Linked DNA regions of Homo sapiens: region 1 is linked to region 2. Evidence: fine-mapped expression QTL. Tissue or cell type: pancreas. Region 2 holds a variant in brackets; the other region holds the start of a gene. All regions are shown on one strand. Distances are between the middles of the regions.

The links. PIP is the estimated chance that this variant, and not a neighbour inherited with it, causes the effect.
Region 1: it holds the start of GABRP, and the variant in region 2 is fine-mapped to the expression of GABRP in pancreas (GTEx, PIP above 0.99).

What each region holds. Positions count from the first base shown.
Region 1 is chr5:170,779,790-170,787,896 of GRCh38, forward strand. GABRP (gamma-aminobutyric acid type A receptor subunit pi) reads left to right here and starts at 3,936. Exons shown (of 10, transcript NM_014211.3): 1 at 3,936-4,085. It overlaps LOC107986475 (a long non-coding RNA gene), which reads right to left and starts at 3,267. Exons shown (of 2, transcript XR_001742978.3): 1 at 1-3,267.
Region 2 is chr5:170,748,345-170,756,451 of GRCh38, forward strand. The region is part of intron 1 of LOC107986473 (a long non-coding RNA gene); the gene reads right to left. It overlaps LOC107986474 (a long non-coding RNA gene), which reads right to left and starts at 4,062. Exons shown (of 2, transcript XR_001742977.2): 1 at 3,779-4,062; 2 at 3,055-3,413. RefSeq lists enhancers at 727-1,484, 2,868-3,752, 3,753-4,637. The variant C/G (reference allele first, on the strand shown) is at 4,000.

The DNA.
Region 1 (8,107 bases), 31 kb after region 2:
TGGTGATTGTCAAGAGGGGAATATATTTGGAAGTTGAAAAAACAGTCAGGAACTTCCTCAATAGCCTGGCCCAACTGTCTCCACACTTTGATCCTATGTCCTCAACCTGTGTACATTAATTTATTTAGAGACTGTCTTATGTCCTAATATATGGTATGTGTGATAAGATATACAAAAAAAAAAGCATTTAAATGGGTGAGATAAAGATGAAAGATGACATAACACTACTTTTTAAGCTTTTATTTTGTTAACCATACCCAGGAAAACCCTTTTCACTGGAACAAATTTTTATGAAAACTAATATTTGTACTGAGGTTGTTATGTTTTATCATGTTTGTATTATTTTCATATTAAGCTTCTGCATTATGATATTTAGAAGACTAGTTTTAAGTTCAAATTATTTTGATATTTAGTTCTAATCACTTTCAGAATTGAAAAAAATGATACTTCACTAAAGTGCAGAAATCCAAATGGAAAAGGCACTAACTACATTGGCTGTGCTTGCTATAATAATAATTTTTCTATCTTACCAATTATGCAAATTGTGTCTAAATTCAGTTAGGAAATGTCATCTTCTCTGATGTCGATCAATTGTTCTTCCACATTTGCCATTGGCACTTTTATATTTTTAACAAGAGTTTGAAAACTCTTCATTTGGAAGATGTTTAATTAGGTGACGATGAGTGAAGTGTCAGTGCTACCATTTTCTTGCTGTTTCCATTACTAGTGTTATCTCCTTTCAGTAGTTCATTTTTGCAATAATCTTTTTTTAAGCCACACATCAATTTAGGGTTAATTTGGTGAAAACAAATCATCAATCCATTTAACCTGGTCCCAAAGCAAAGGATTGCAAGACCAAGCCCTCCATGTTGTAAAGCCCCCACTCCATCCTCAGGTTCACGTGGCTTGGCCCAGCTATACATGACCTTGGACAGTCTTCCTATCACACTGGTGAGCAGCCAGTATCCATGCACATAGTAAATATTAGTAAAGTACAATATCTCTCCCATTGTTTGAAGCCATAGAAGTTCTAATATTTTCTCCTATAATTCAAAGGCTCATCTTGCACAGAGCCATTCAGGCCTCTTTTTGGAGATGCCCATTTCTAAGATGAGGAGTTGCTGAGCCAGGCGTTGGGAGATAAGACAGAACAAGGTATCAAGAGTGAGGGTCCATCAGGTGTTGAGGGTGGGGGAAGAAGGAAGATGAGAGGGTTGAGATTGTCCTAGACGTTCCAGCTGGGATTGCAGGTGAGAAGGGTATTCAGTTCTGACAGGCAGTATTTCCTGGGAAGCACAGGTGCAAAAAGTAATCTTTTCCCACTACAGTGTCCCAGGCAAGGGGAAGACCCACAGGTTTTCTCTGTCCTCTGCTTTAGTTGAACTCTGTTTCACTGTACTCCCCACCATTATTGAATGGACTTGGGTAAGCGGCTGATTTGAAATTCAAAGACCTGGATTCCAGTCCATGCCGACTCCACCCCTTAATAGCTGGCTGACTAGCACAGCTTCCTCATCTGTAAAATAACAATTTTTTAAAAAGCCCTGCCTGCTTCACAGGATTATTATATGGCTCAAAGATAAAGCATATGCACAGCCAAAGGCTCTGAAAACTGCAAAGCACTATACAAATGTACGGTGTTATTATGACTTAGTATCCTGCATGCATTATGATTGAGGTACAAGGCAAGACATATCTATGTCCTCTTGCCTTTGTTTTTCCGGGACACTTAGGAGAGAGTATGACCATGTGGAGTAAGAGGTGGACACTGAGATCAGTATCCTGTGGGCAGTACATCTGAACATCCTGAACGTCCTAACACTGACCTTAGGCCTCCTGAGACCAGAGGTCACACTTGGAAATGAGGTGTGGTGCAGAGGTTGCTGGGGTTTCTGGATCCACGGAGCAAGAATGCCTGGGAATACTGGAGAAGAACCTAGTTTTCCTGGAAATTCCCCTCCCAGGCATTTCTTCACTTGATCTGAAGAAAATCTAAGAAGAAGCCAACACTAGAATGAAGCATTGTTTGAAAGTGGGAGATAAGACGCCTTATCATACCTACTTTCACTTAAGATCTGGCTTTCCCTGGCCACCAGGGGTAATCAGTCTCTTAACATATTTACTGGATGTCTACATAGAAGTACAATTCAAGCCCCTTGCAATGAAAATACTAACAATATGATTGGGAAGATTAAACACAGGATAGACAGATTGACAGATAATGGTGATGAAGATAGATAATAGATAGATATCTGGATGGAGGTTTGGATAGATAAGCACAAACTTGACAAGACACTACACCATCAGGAGAAAAAGAACAATTTGTTGAGCGTCTACAATGTGCCAGGTCAAGGTGCCAGGTGCTTTCAGATGTGTTACCACATCTGTCATTGCTGACTCCTTACAGCAATCCTGTAAGGAAGCATCAGCCCCATTGGTCAGATAAGAAATGGAGACCCAAAGAGGTTAAGCAACTTGTCCAGGACCATGCAGCTAGCCAGCCCATGTTCCTTCATCTAAGTCTCACTGTTCCTGGGTCAGAGGAAACCCTCCCACCCCCACCTCCCAGCTCTGAATTGTCTTTATTACTCTGGAGCCTTTGTTCTGTGTGAGAATATCTTAGGCTTTTTGAGAAAAGCCCCAGATCACTGTCTATTCATTGAGAACCTGAAACCGGCTCCTCAGCCATTCCTGCTCTAGCCACCAGCAAGGTTCCCAAGTGAAAGTGAGTCCTCTCAGGAGAAATGAAAGCGCTGTCTCTTTAGGTGCCCACTCCTTACCCACCAGCGGAGCAATGTTTTCCAGGCTGGCCAGGCTCCAGAAGCTCACTAAGGAAGTTGGCTTGGGGCCAAAGGCATCTATGGTTCATTGTACACTGTGGCCCTCCCCTTCCTGCCCCTCCATTTGCTCCCCTTCCTTTCTCTCTCTCCCTTCCCGGCTCCTAGACTGGGTCTAGGCAGGAGCTTCGCCATGATGTCAGGAGGGAAGGAGATGCCTCTGGGCCTCGTACCACAGCCTCAGCTCTCTCTCTGCCCCTCCATCTGAGTCCCTCCTGGCTCCCAGCTCCCTCAGGGTGCAAGGCCAAGCCTCCAAGGAATCCCTCCCCTTACCTGCATGGCTGGAGCCAAGAGTGAGTTTGGGGCCACTGGCTATGATGAGGGGATGACCCAGAGCTCAGTGAGCACTGTCGAAGCACTTCTGTTAGGAGGTTTGGTTGGCCAGGGAGGAAGAAGGCCTCCCTCTCTGGGATGCTCCTGAAAGGACTCTGTGGGAAGTTAAAGAATCCTCTGTGTGAGAGCAGGATGGGGGAAGGTGGAGGGTTGGAGAAATCCAGCCCAGTGTCTCTGTGTCTCCCCGCCTCCTCCTCCTGGGCCTCTATCCTCTGTGCTCTTGGCCTCTATGAGTCTTTTTGAAACTTCCCAGGCTGGAAAGCACTAGGTCCTGGGATATGAAAGTCTCTTTTAACATAGAATAGGCCTTCTGTTGATCCCAAAGATGCTCTTAAAATACACAACAAGAAATCGGAGTTTTACACACAGTCAGCTTCTCATTTTATAGATGGGAAGCTGAGGCCTAAGGAGGTGAAGTGGCCACTATAGCCATTCCATTGCACCAGGGTGGAGGGCTGTCCACCAAATTCAGAGCCCGGCATAGTGGGTGGGGGTCACCCACTTTATCTGACTCTCATGGGTCCTTGATCTCAGGGGTCTTTTCTGGCAGAGGTCTGGGAGCATGACTGAGACATGATCTCAGAATCAAACCCCTGGAGGCAGTAGCTATAGCAGGAGCTGACGATCTCCAGAAACTCAGGACCAGACGATCTCCAGACACTCAGGACAAGTCAGTGTCCCCACCAAGGATGGGGCTTTGAGAGGCTCCGCCCACCTCTGTTTCTGCACAGCAGGTTTAGCAGCTCCATTCTTCCCCAGAGAGCCACTCCATCTGAGGGTGGCTGCGTGTCCACATACGAGGGGACAGGGCTGAGGATGAGGAGAACCCTGGGGACCCAGAAGACCGTGCCTTGCCTGGAAGTCCTGCCTGTAGGCCTGAAGGACTTGCCCTAACAGAGCCTCAACAACTACCTGGTAAGGAAACTGCTGGCCCCTCCAGGTGTCTGGAGAGAGGGGAGGGAGGGAGATCCAAATACAAGCCCTGCTGGGACCGAGGGAGGGGGCAGGCCTGGACTCTGCTGAACACCTAATGAGCATCAGGGAGCGCCACTGCAGGACGAGCAGCAGAGCCAAGATTAGAGCCCCTGCTGTCCTCACTACAGCCACAGTCATTCACCCCTGTGCAGCAGCTGGCCAAGACCAGCAGACACAGGGCACGCGCCGCACCACTTTATCTTCTGGGATTTTCTTAAGCGGGACCCATGGCAATAATGCCTTTCCTCACCTTAACCTAATTCGGGCTCTACTCCTGCTTTCCAACAAATGATTCTGTCTATGCTGAAGTGATAAGGATAGGAAAACTGTGCCTGCATAGGAAGGAAGCTGGAGGTGACAAGTTGGGGTTGGGGGTCACTGTATTTACATGGTAGAAATTCTGGGAATAGAGTAGAAACGGTAGTAGAAACTTGCACATATTGGAATTATTTCTGCTTCCAGCCTGGGAAGTTTTCAAAAGAGACATAGAGGCCAAGAGCACGGAGTATAGAAGCCCAGTAGGCCAAGCCAGGAAGAGGCGGGGGAGACTGGGAGACATTAGGCTGGATTTCTGGTTTAGAAAAAGGTGCCATCAGCTCCCTATGTGACCTTAATGCCCTGTGCCTGACCCTGTACTTCCTGAGGTGGTGCCAGTTAGCTCACACTCTGAGTGGCACCTGGGGTGTATATAGAAATAGAAAGAGCTTGAGATTTGGGTTCTATTAGTCATAGTGGAATCACTGAATTCCCATGGAAGACACGGAAGGCAGAGGAGAATGAAAACTAATGTTTATTGAATGCTTTCTATTCCCATTTGTCAGATGGGAAAACTGAGACTCTGAGAGGTTAAATGACTCGGGTGTATCAGGATCCAGAGCTCAAGGTCTCCTCTACAAGTGGAGGTAGGAGCTTGGCCAGAGATGCCCTCGGGGCAGGATAATGCATAGGCTGCCCCTACTCAGGAGCCTCCTAGGGCCTCCTGAGCACCATGTCCCTGCAGATGCAGAAGGCTAGGTGGTTCCAGTCAACATCTGTGTTGCAGCTTTGGGGACAACCCTTAGGACACTGCTCTCTGGTGGCTCAGTACCTCTCCACTAAATTCCATCCCCCAGCACCTGTACCAGAACTGGTGGCCTGAGCCTCCATTGAGGCTGGCCGACACATAAATAGCCACTTAACGATTGGCTCGTCTACCACAGGGAGTGATGGCATCAGCTGCACTTGTCACTTGGGATGTGCTGCGGATGCAACACTCCATCCCCCAGATGGGTTTGGTATAAAAAGGACAAGATTCAAGTGGAATCCAGTTCAGCTTGGGGGTGCTGAAGGCCCTCCTCCTAAATGCAGGGCAAAGAAAAGGGACTTGGAAAACAGATTTAAATCATGCCACTTAACTGTGTGACCTCAGCCAAATCCCCTTGCAAATCTAAGATTTGACTCTAAAAATTAACACCTTCTGGGCCAGCAGCCATGAGAATTAAATGAAATTAAGCACCAGACATGGCTTCTAACAATTCATGGGCATTTAGAAGCCTTTTTCTTCTCTTTTCTTCCCTTATAAAATGAGACGTGTTTAGCAACTTAACCAAGCAAACACGGTAGGATGGGATTACATTTCTGGCTCTAGCCTGGGTGAAGCTTCTCAGATCATGAGACTCCTTAGAGGAGGCTGAGAGGCCCAGGGCCAAATGTTACATCTTCCTAACAGAAGTTTGGCCACTGGGAAAGCACTATTCAAGAGGAGTCTTGGAACTGAAGACTGGATGGTTCCCCAAATCACTTGATCGAGGGCCATTTCCTATAGGAGGAGGAGGAAATGAGGAATATGCCAAAGTGGAACCATGTTCCTTCAGGCCAGACCAGGAGAAAGACACAGACAGCCAAGGGCTGGTGGGAAGAGGCTGATAAGCATGTGGGAGAGAGGCCGTGGGCAAGCCTGCACATCTCTGTCCAACATTTGGAGGGCCCCCACTCTCCTTTGTCCACCTGGCAAATGCAACTCACTCTTCAAGAATCAAATGACCTTTTCTGTGACTTCCCTTTTGACATTGCCCCATCCTCCCTGCTCTTTTGCATACCAAATATCCCCTGTCCTCTGCTCCTATTAGAGGATGCTGTAGGGAATGTTCATTCACCAGTCACACATGTCTCTTCCTCACTAGATGGGTGGGTGCTCTGGTGGTGCTTTTCACATGCCTGGTTCACAGGAGAAGCTCAATAAACCTGTGGAAAATTGAATGAGGCAATGGAGGGCATGGGAGCTGCTCCATGGACCCCCTTAAACTCAATGCTTGGACAGGGAAAGGACAGGGATTGGGGAGATGGACTAAAGGAAGAGAATGTGAATATGATCGTTGGTAGATTTATAATGTTGATTTTATAACTGGTATTTTCAATGAGTGAGAACAAAAAAGCTAACATAACAGAGAGCAGAATGATAAGAATTTACCTGTGTGCAAAACTGTTCTTCACTGATTTTGTAACGTAAAAACTTTGGAAATAACAGCATTCACAGTAGAAGATGTGTTCTAGAAATGTTGGTACATTCAGACCATGAGACACCTTGCAGCCATTAGAGAGAATAAGGCGGATTATAGGAACTGACATGGAAGGTGTCACTGATACTGCAAAACAGCATGTTTCATGGTGCACTCATTAAGAGGAGTTGGGTCAGCTTGCTTAGATGTACTTTTCTGCCCCTCATGTACTACTTAGCCTTGGAAATATTCCTTATCCTCTCTAATCCTCAGTATTCTCACCTGTAAAATGGGGAGAATGGTAGTCCCTACTTCAAAGAGTTGTGAGGATTCTAGATATGCGTGGCACAGTTGTAAGCATGCATTAAGTGTTCAATAAATGTTTGCTATAATTAAGTTAAAAAAGTAAGCCGCAAAAAGCATGCTATTGCCCCAATTTTGCTTTTTAATTTTTTTGATATAGAGATATATATGTATGTAAATATATATGTGTATCTGTGGATAAAACAACTGTTATCGGTAGTTATTTCTGAAGTATGAGACAAAAGAGAAGAAATGGGGGGGGACTTTTTTGTTTTTGTTATGTTTTTTTAAATAGACTTCTTTTTTAGAGCAATTTTGGGTCATAGCAAAATTGAGCCTTCCCTACACATAAAACCTTCTTTACTGTCAACATCCCGCATCAGAGGGACACATTTGTTTTCATTGATGAATCCATATTGACACATCATTGGGACTTATACTTTTAACTTCTGACTTGTTGCCATTTCAACAGTGAGCGAGTATTGGTTTTGAAAGTAAAATAACATTAATGAGTGGCTGAATCATGCCCTAAGCTCCAGAATGGCCAGATTCTAGAAAGTGGCTTGTTTCACAGAAGTTGCCACAGAGAAGGTAATCAACCCAGGGCTGCCTGAGAATGGGGCCTGAGCCTGAGCACCCCCATTCTGCTGTCACCAGCATGACAGGTCACAGGCTGGCCTGCCTGGCTACCCCCTGCTCCCTCAGAGGGACGCCTGACAGCAGCTCCTGAAGCTGAGGAGGCCGGGCCCCTGGGCCATGCCCCACGGATGGTCCTCACATACACACCAGCTGGAAGGCTTCAGGAAACACAGGGACAAGGTCTAGGAGGTCACGACAGCAGCAAGGATCCTCGGGTCAACTAAGGCCCAGGCCCCAGCCTGCTCTGAAGGAAGAGAGTACCGGGGGGGAGGCAGCCAGCCCTGGATTCAAAGTCTCCCCTGGCACTCACTAGCATGGTGTCCTTCCCATGCACCTGTTTCCTTGTCGTAATAATATAGGGATTAACCCGCCCACCACACAAGGCCACTGTGAGGATGGAGTGAGCTCTGTGGGACAGCACCTAACTCATGACCTCCTGACACTGGAGGCTCTCAGGTTTTTGTTTCCTGTCTACATGACTGACCCCACAAGCCTAGACCTGGGGATAAATAAAAGAATGTCTGGCTTGGTCAAGGTGAGTGT
Region 2 (8,107 bases):
ACCGACCACATCCACTCATGGATTTGTCTGTTGGTAGAGGTTTAGTTGGTGTTTCCTTATATACCTAAAGGAAAGTAGTTTCAGGCCGGGCGTGGTGGCTCATGCCTGTAATCTCAGCACTTTGGGAGGCCAAGGCCAGTGGATCCCTCGAGGCCAGGAGTTCAAGACCAGCCTGGCCAACATGGTGAAACTCCGTCTCTACTAAAAATACAAAAATTAGCTGGATGTGGTGGCAGGCACCTATAATCCCAGCTACTCAGGGGTGTTTCACATGAGAATTACTTATACCTGGAGGTGGAGGTTGCAGTGAGCCAAGATTGTGCCATTGCACTCCAGACTGGGAGACAGAGCGATACTCTGTCTCAAAAAAAAAAAATGAAAAAAGAAAGAAAAGAAAAGTAGTTTTAGCCAAAGGAGGTATTTCTCTTGCACTGTAAGCCAATTTCAGCCAGGCCACCAAAATTGCCTCCCTCAGAAGCAAATATCTGCAGAAGATCCAAGAAAATTTGCTCAAGGGTTAGCTCCCACCTTTGCTCCAAGAGACACTGGCTCCACTGCTGAATGAACAAATTGTGCAGCTCAGCCTACGTTAGGCTGTATGCTCACATCTCCTCCTCTGGATCTTGGTTCCCCGGCAGATGAGTGCAACTAGGCCCTGGGGTCCTTCCCAGCTGCAGCATTCTAGGATGAGGACGGAGCACTGGCCTCTGTCTGTGGCCTCAGAGGCAGCCAGCTGCCTCTCCTCCCTCCCTCCCCGAGCCACGTCTTTTTTTGCCACCCACTCTGTTGTGTCCTGGGTGTGTGAAGGGGCTGCGCTTAGCTGCGTCTTCTTTTGTCTGGAGATGACAGTCCACAGACCAGGAAGGAAGGGTGGGAATGACGGTTTGCAGAGGGAAGGCGAGGGGAGCTATTTCCACCTACTTTGGCCTGGTAATTGATGAGCACGTGGGGAGGTTTCCGCATTTCAATAAGAGGTTGCTTTCGCCTTCCTCTGCCTTCCTCCAGAAGAAGCGCCCCTGACCCGGTGGAACCAAACACAGAGGCTTTCTTTCCAGTGCCATTCTCTGACATCAGCCCTACTCCAGAGAGCTCCCCAGGGAGGGGTCTGAGTCTCCACCTTCCTCTGAATCCCTCTGCCCCCCAGATTTCATTCCCCACTCACAGGAGCAGCTTGCTCTTGATAACTGCGGTGTCAGCCGCCTAACTCCTCTCTTCATGTCTCGGGGATGAGCTGACTTGGGCTGCCTTCCTGGACTGCCCCATGCTGCACGTCTCCTGGGATTTCCATAGCCGAAGTATCTCCCACTTACCACATGGGCCAGCTCCCTGTCTTCCAAGCTTCCATTTCTACAGCCTCAGTTACTGGAGGCTTTTGTCTACCCAAGCCTGGGGAACTGCTATTCATGAAAATGGCAGTATTCATTGTTTTTGAAGATGTCTAAGTCCCAGAAAACATAAGAAGGTTCGAGATGGCTTTTAATATGAAGGAGAGCGGTCTTCATTTTTTTTCTGGTGAAAGGAACACTTTTTAATGAAAACTCAAGTTAATGTTAAATGACAAATGTCATAGAGCCAGCCACGAGTCTTTCTAACTTTGTTGTGGCCATAAATGACAGACATGTGCAATCAAGTCCCCAGGTCAACAGAGGGACAGATTGCTGGCAGAACCACCCTCAGCAGGTTAATAAGTTGACCTGAAAGCTGCCAGGGCAGTTTGGAACGTTTGCGATGAGGAACTTGTATTTAGTTTTTATAAGTTGTCACATAATCGCTTAGGGCGGCTCTTAAAATATGTCCAAACAAGGAGACAGTGAATAGGTCTGGAATAACAGTCCCCCTTCTGTTTCAGAACTGACAGTTTCAGCCAATAGGGAGAGGTGAATGGTAATGAGGGAAGAATGGGCTTTTTAGACACACCTGGTATTGAACCCTGACTCATGATGTGCTAACTGAGACTGGGCAAGGTGTCTCAGCTGCCTTATCCGGCTTCCTCCTTGGCCGTAGAGTCAAAACACATCCTTTGCCCCATCCTTTGAGGGTTCTCACCAAGGGAAGGGAATAAACACAGGGCAAACACCTAGGAGGCTGACACCCAACAGGCATCGAGAAATGTTCATTTTCTTCCTCCCTCCTACCGTCACCCTAGCTCTAGCTCTCATATCTAGGAACTAGAACAGCTGTCTACCCCCTCTCCCAGGCTTTGCCCAGAGCCCAGATGGTTTCTAGGCAGACCCATAGGATTTAAGGTCTTGCTAACAATTAAAAGCCATGAATCTCTTCCCCTCTTCCCTGCTCTGTTCTGAGTCCTGTGTGTCTATAGCTCATCTCATCTTCCCCATAGCCCTGAAGTAGATAGGAAAGATGATCATGTCCACAACTCAGAAAGGGTGAAATTAAGGCAGAGAGGTGAAGACACTTGCCCCATGTCACCAGTGGAGTGAGCTGATGATGGAGCCAGCACTTGAACCCAAACCATCCATCTAGGTCCAAAGCACACTAGTAGCACCATGCTACTACTCTGCCTCCTGAGCCACAAGACAGTAAGGATTAGATGTCCATGCTCAAGCATTGTAAGCAAAAGTAGCTAAGTAGAGAGGGTGAGGAGTCCAACAGGCTCAAGAAGGAGAGCAGATGCCAGCTGTGCTCGCTCAGAAATCGGAAACGCAGCTTGCAGCCTTTAGTGATAGAGCTGTACGCTTGAGGGGCTTCTTCCCAGAGAGAGGTCTGGGAGTCAGAAACACAGAGTGCAGTGTCCCCTGCTGAGTCAAACAGAGGCCAGACCAGGGGACACATCAGAGAAACGGCCCAGGAAAGGCTGGGACAGGCTCAGGACTCGCCCAGAGGTACTGCGCCCTGAGTAAACCTGTTTATTCTTTCAGAATAAGCTGGTGTCGGATGGAAAGGTCAATATTATTTAGTATTATTATTAGTTATTCTGGAATAACTACTTATATTTCTTATGTATTTTCCAGGTATTTCACATGCATTCTCTCATTTAAGACCCACGGCAACTCAGCAACATATTATCCCCTTTTACAGATGAGAAAGGGCTCATTGAGGCAAAGGGATTTATTTATTCAAGTTTACATGGCTGCCTGTGGCAGGGTTGGGTGAACCAGGGCTGCTCTGCCTCTGTGCCTGCTATGCCAAGTGAGAATAGGGTACTCATCCCAGGATCATCTTTGCAGGCATCCAGCTGTTTCCCGTGCCCACCTGCCCCCTCATTAGGTTCTGTAAGATCACCGTCCTGACCCCCAGGAGCACACTCACCCATGGGGTCAGGCTGCTATTAGAAATTCCTTCCAGAGATGCCAGGTGAGAGGGAGGCAGGCAGACAGACATCTGTGGGGGTCACATTCACCCCAGACAGTTCATTGCCGGAAGGAAGCCACATGCCTCACGTCGAAGCTCATCTGATTGGAGTCAGACACAGCCAGATACAGTCATGATTGTGTCCAGAGGCCCACGGGGGCTGGCGGGGCCCTTCACGACAGCTGCTACGGCACAGCCCATCTGGAAGGGCTCTTTTTGTTCAACGCTTTAACCCTCTGAGGACCCTCGGGACCAAGGGATGCCACACCCTGGGTGAGAGAGATACTCAAGGAGGAGGGTCCCTCTACAGAGGATGAGTTAGGACACCCGGGACGGGCCCACATTTTCCTCCCCACTCTGCTTCCCAGGTAGATTGAGGGTAGGAGGAGGCCCACATTCCACAGAGGAGAGACTGTGAGCCTCTTGAGTTTTAAGAATCTGTGAAGGAACACCCCCAAACACCTACCATGCACCCCCAAGCAAGTAAAGGGGCTCCCTGAGTTCCAGCAGCTTGAGTAAAGGCCCAGAAAGTGACCCTGTGAGGCTCATGGAGAAGGGAATGTTGAGGGCCCAGCCTGCACTGGGTGGGCAGCGCCCTGCCCCAACTTCCCGCAGGTTCCCAGGAAATGAACAAAAGGCTCCCTCAGCTCACTCGTTGGCAGATGTCTCTGACCTGAGGCCATTCAT[C/G]AACTCTCACTCAGGCACTCAGCCCCCCAGACAGCCTGGAGGTGTTGGCAGCACACCAGAGAGACTTTCAGCCAAAGACAGGTCTGGTTTCCCTGAAGAAAAAGAAACCTGAACTGGCTGCCTTCCCAGAGCGTCTGCTTGGGGGACCCACCCAAGTAAACAAAGCTGTTAAATGGGGGCATGTGGGCCAAAGCCCGCTGCACTAGAAGCTCCCGCTGCAGCAGTGCTGCCCTGCCCCAGGCACCACTCTAGCAAGAGAGAGCCTCTCACCACCGTGGGGCCTGACCCTGCTGCTGACCAGCCTCTGCTACCCACAGCCTGGACCCTCTCTCCACCTGGAGCCCCTCTCCTTCCTGCCTCCCTCTGATTCATGCCCGGTGGGTAGGAGTCCTACTTCCTCTCCTCTTCCCTGAACACAGTAACAGTGGGTGTGCTCCTGAAGGTGACGTGAGGGCAACAAGACTGACTGACCTTCCTCGTCCACCTAGGGAGCTCATACAGACCCATCACATCCACCCCCTGCCACCTCTGCAAGCTTGGACAGGAGGTGAGCTCCTCCGAGCTGCAGCTTCCTCATCTGTAAACTGGGAATAACAGGATCTCTATCAAAGATGATGGTGACTATTCAGAACAGACAAAGCCACAGAGACAGAAACAGATGAATGGTTTCCAGGGCTGGGGCAGGAGGAATGTGGAGTACCTGCTTCATGGGTACAGGGTTTCTGGTTTGGGGTGATGAAAATGTTCTCACACAAGATCATGGTGATGGTTGCACAACCTCATGAATGGACTTAATGCCACTGAATTGTACACTTTAATATGATTTCAATGGTAAATTTTATGTTATGTGTATTTTGCCACAACAAAAAAAAGTTCCTATGAGATTAAATGAAATGAAGTTTGTAGAAATGATTGCACCACCGGGTACATTATAGATCCTCAACAGATTTTAATGTCCTTGCTTCCCTGAGATCATCACATTGAAATGTAGACAATATACCCTGCTCTACCCCACATGCCTCCCCAGGGTGGACTATTTTTCTATTTAGATACTTGCTCCAACATGCTAATAGGATGAATCCATGTTTTTCATAAAGTAAAGCATTTGATTCACCAGTAGGAGAGAGAGTATCCAATGCTGCCACCCCTGTTCCCTCTTCTGGACTTACCTGTTTCACTGGCCTGGTCTAGGGTAACCAACACCAGGATTGAGTCCTACCAGAGGAAGGTAAAAGGCTCTCTGGGTACCCAGGCTAGGGACTTCTCTCAGTATCTGTTTCTCACTGTTTCCAAAACACTGTCATCCTAAAAAATAAAGCCTCTCATTGTTGGGAAGCATTTTTCCAAGAGTCTTTTGTGTTTCTGCACGTCTTCTGAGCAGAGACACTGCTTTGGTTACAATCTTTTCAAGAATGTTTGCAAAGCAAATAGCCTCAGAAGATATAGTGTCTCCCTTCAATGTAAAGAGCAGGTAGGCTTACTCTCCATTATGAAATATCTGGGTTCCCTAGGCTTAGGGCTCCTCTCCCATAACGCAACCCACAGCAGGTACAGATGACACCTGGCCCTCTTTGTGCCACCCCATGGGAATAAGGGTTTGGGGAACTGGAACAAAAAATGCATTGAACATAGCAAGGCTCAACTAGTATTTATAATCATTATTAATTGCCTTTCTTCCCTACTATGCTTTAAGCTCCTTAAGGGTAACCAGTATGTTTTTATTTATCTTTGTATTTCACAGAATGGATACTGATAAATATTTGCTGGCTGGCTGGATGGATGGATGGGTGGATGGATGGGTGGGTGAATGGATGAATGGATGGATGGATGGATGGATGGATGGATGGATGAGTGGACGGATGGATGGATGGATGGATGGATGGATGGATGGATGGATGGATACATGGAGGAATGGGTGGGTGGATGGATGGGTGGGTGGATGGGTGGATGGATGGATGGGTGGATGGATAGGTGGATGGGTGAGTGGGTGGGTGGGTGGATGGATGGATGGATGGACGGGTGGGTGAATGGATGGATGGATGGATGCATGAGTGGATGGATGGATGGATGGATGGATGGATGGATGGATGGATGGATGGATACATGGAGGAATGGGTGGGTGGATGGATGGGTGGGTGGATGGGTGGATGGATGGATGGGTGGATGGATAGGTGGATGGGTGAGTGGATGGGTGGGTGGATGGGTGGATGGGTGGATGGATAAGTGGATGGGTGAGTGGGTGGGTGGGTGGATGGATGGATGGATGGACGGGTGGGTGAATGGATGGATGGATGGATGGATGGATGGATGGATGGATGCATGAGTGGATGGATGGATGGATGGATGGATGGGCGGATGGAAGGATGGATGGATGGATGGATGGATGGATAGATGAATGGATGGATTGGTGGATGGATGGATGGATGGATTGTTGGATGGATGAATGGATGGATGGGTGGATGCATGGATGAGTGGATGGATAGATGAATGGGTGGATGGATGGAAAGATGAGTGGGTGGGTGGGTGGGTGGGTGGATGGATGGATGGATGGACAGACAGGTGGATAGGTGGATGGATGAGTGGGTAGATGGAATGATGGATGGATCGATGGATGGATGGATGGGTGGATGGATGGGTGGGTGAATGGATGAATGGATGGATGGATGGATAGATGGATGGATGGATGGATGGATGGAGAGATGTTTCTCTTGTGTCATCCTGGCAGTTTTATCTGACACTTCCCCTCTCATTCTTACAGCTTTTCTAGCTCCTGACACCATACCCAGTATTTTAACCACTTACCTTGCCAGCTATTTTCCTGGCTCAAACCATGTGATGTAGATAATAAGAGTCAAGTACTCTGCATGGGGCCTTGGATTTGGATGTTGGGGAGCATCCTGGATCCTTGCCTAGGTCTGGACATCTCTCCTGTCCTGCCCTCCCAGCTTTGTCCTAGCATCGGCTCCACTCCCAACTTCAGGACCTCATGGTGATGTGCAGTTCTAATATACCTAACAAGATATCAGTCCAGGCTACCAAACCACATGTTGGTCACCCCTGAACCAGCTAAACAAGATGTTTGCTTCTCACATTTGCTCCTGTTAGGCTAAAAGGGGTCATAGTGCTGGGCACATAGCAGGTACTTGGTTAATATTTATTTCATGAATGGATGAATAAGCCTTAAATTCATCGCCTCCTTCTTACATTATTAAAGTCAGCCTCCTGGGCAATAAGACCTAAAAATACAACCAAAAGGAGGGAAACTGGAGATATCGCCACAGACATTCCTTTTGGTTCGGCATCCACATGGCAAACACAATCTCCAGAACGGTGCAGTGATGGCATTGGATGTGCCAGCCAGTCTTCCCTGTGGTAAGAACCCCCGCCTTTGTGCACAGCTTCCTCACAGATCATATACGATGTATAAGGTGATTACAAAGGTATACCTGCTCTATATGCACTTGCAATTGCAAAACAGCTACTCCCCTTTTCCACAGCCACACAGGAAGTTTGGCCAATTGGCATCTTGCCAAGAAAAGCCTGGCAGTGAATAGCTATTTAATGTAAAGGCTCTGGGGCCCATTTTTCAGATGGCTGAGAGAACGGAATGTCCAGCAGGCAAATTGAAGTGCCGAATCTGTGGTGCTGGGGTCCCGGATTCATCAGCAATAGGGACACTGGGTATATTTAACTGGGTATGATCCACCAGTGGATGCCTAGTATTCACTGATGTATTTGTTTGCTTGTTTATACCTCCTTTCACTCCAGAAGAGATTTGTGTAATTCGATAAGTTCACATAAAGTGGAACGAAACAGGATTGGTTATAAAACACAAAACTGCATATCATGTGTTCTCTTGACTAAGTTCAAGAGAGTACAGAGCTGTTGCCAGGCCAGGCAGAAGGCCTAGGTGTGGCTGCTGTGTTCCAGGACCTGCCCTCCAGCATGCCAAGCCCAGGGACTTGATTTTGCCAGTGCTCTGAGAGTTATCCAGCCTTAGAGAGAACCAGCTCATACAACCCAAGTCACAAGAGGCTCTTATACAAACCACAATTAACTCCACTTGACAAATGTATTCTAAGAATTAGATCACAAGAAGGACAAGAAC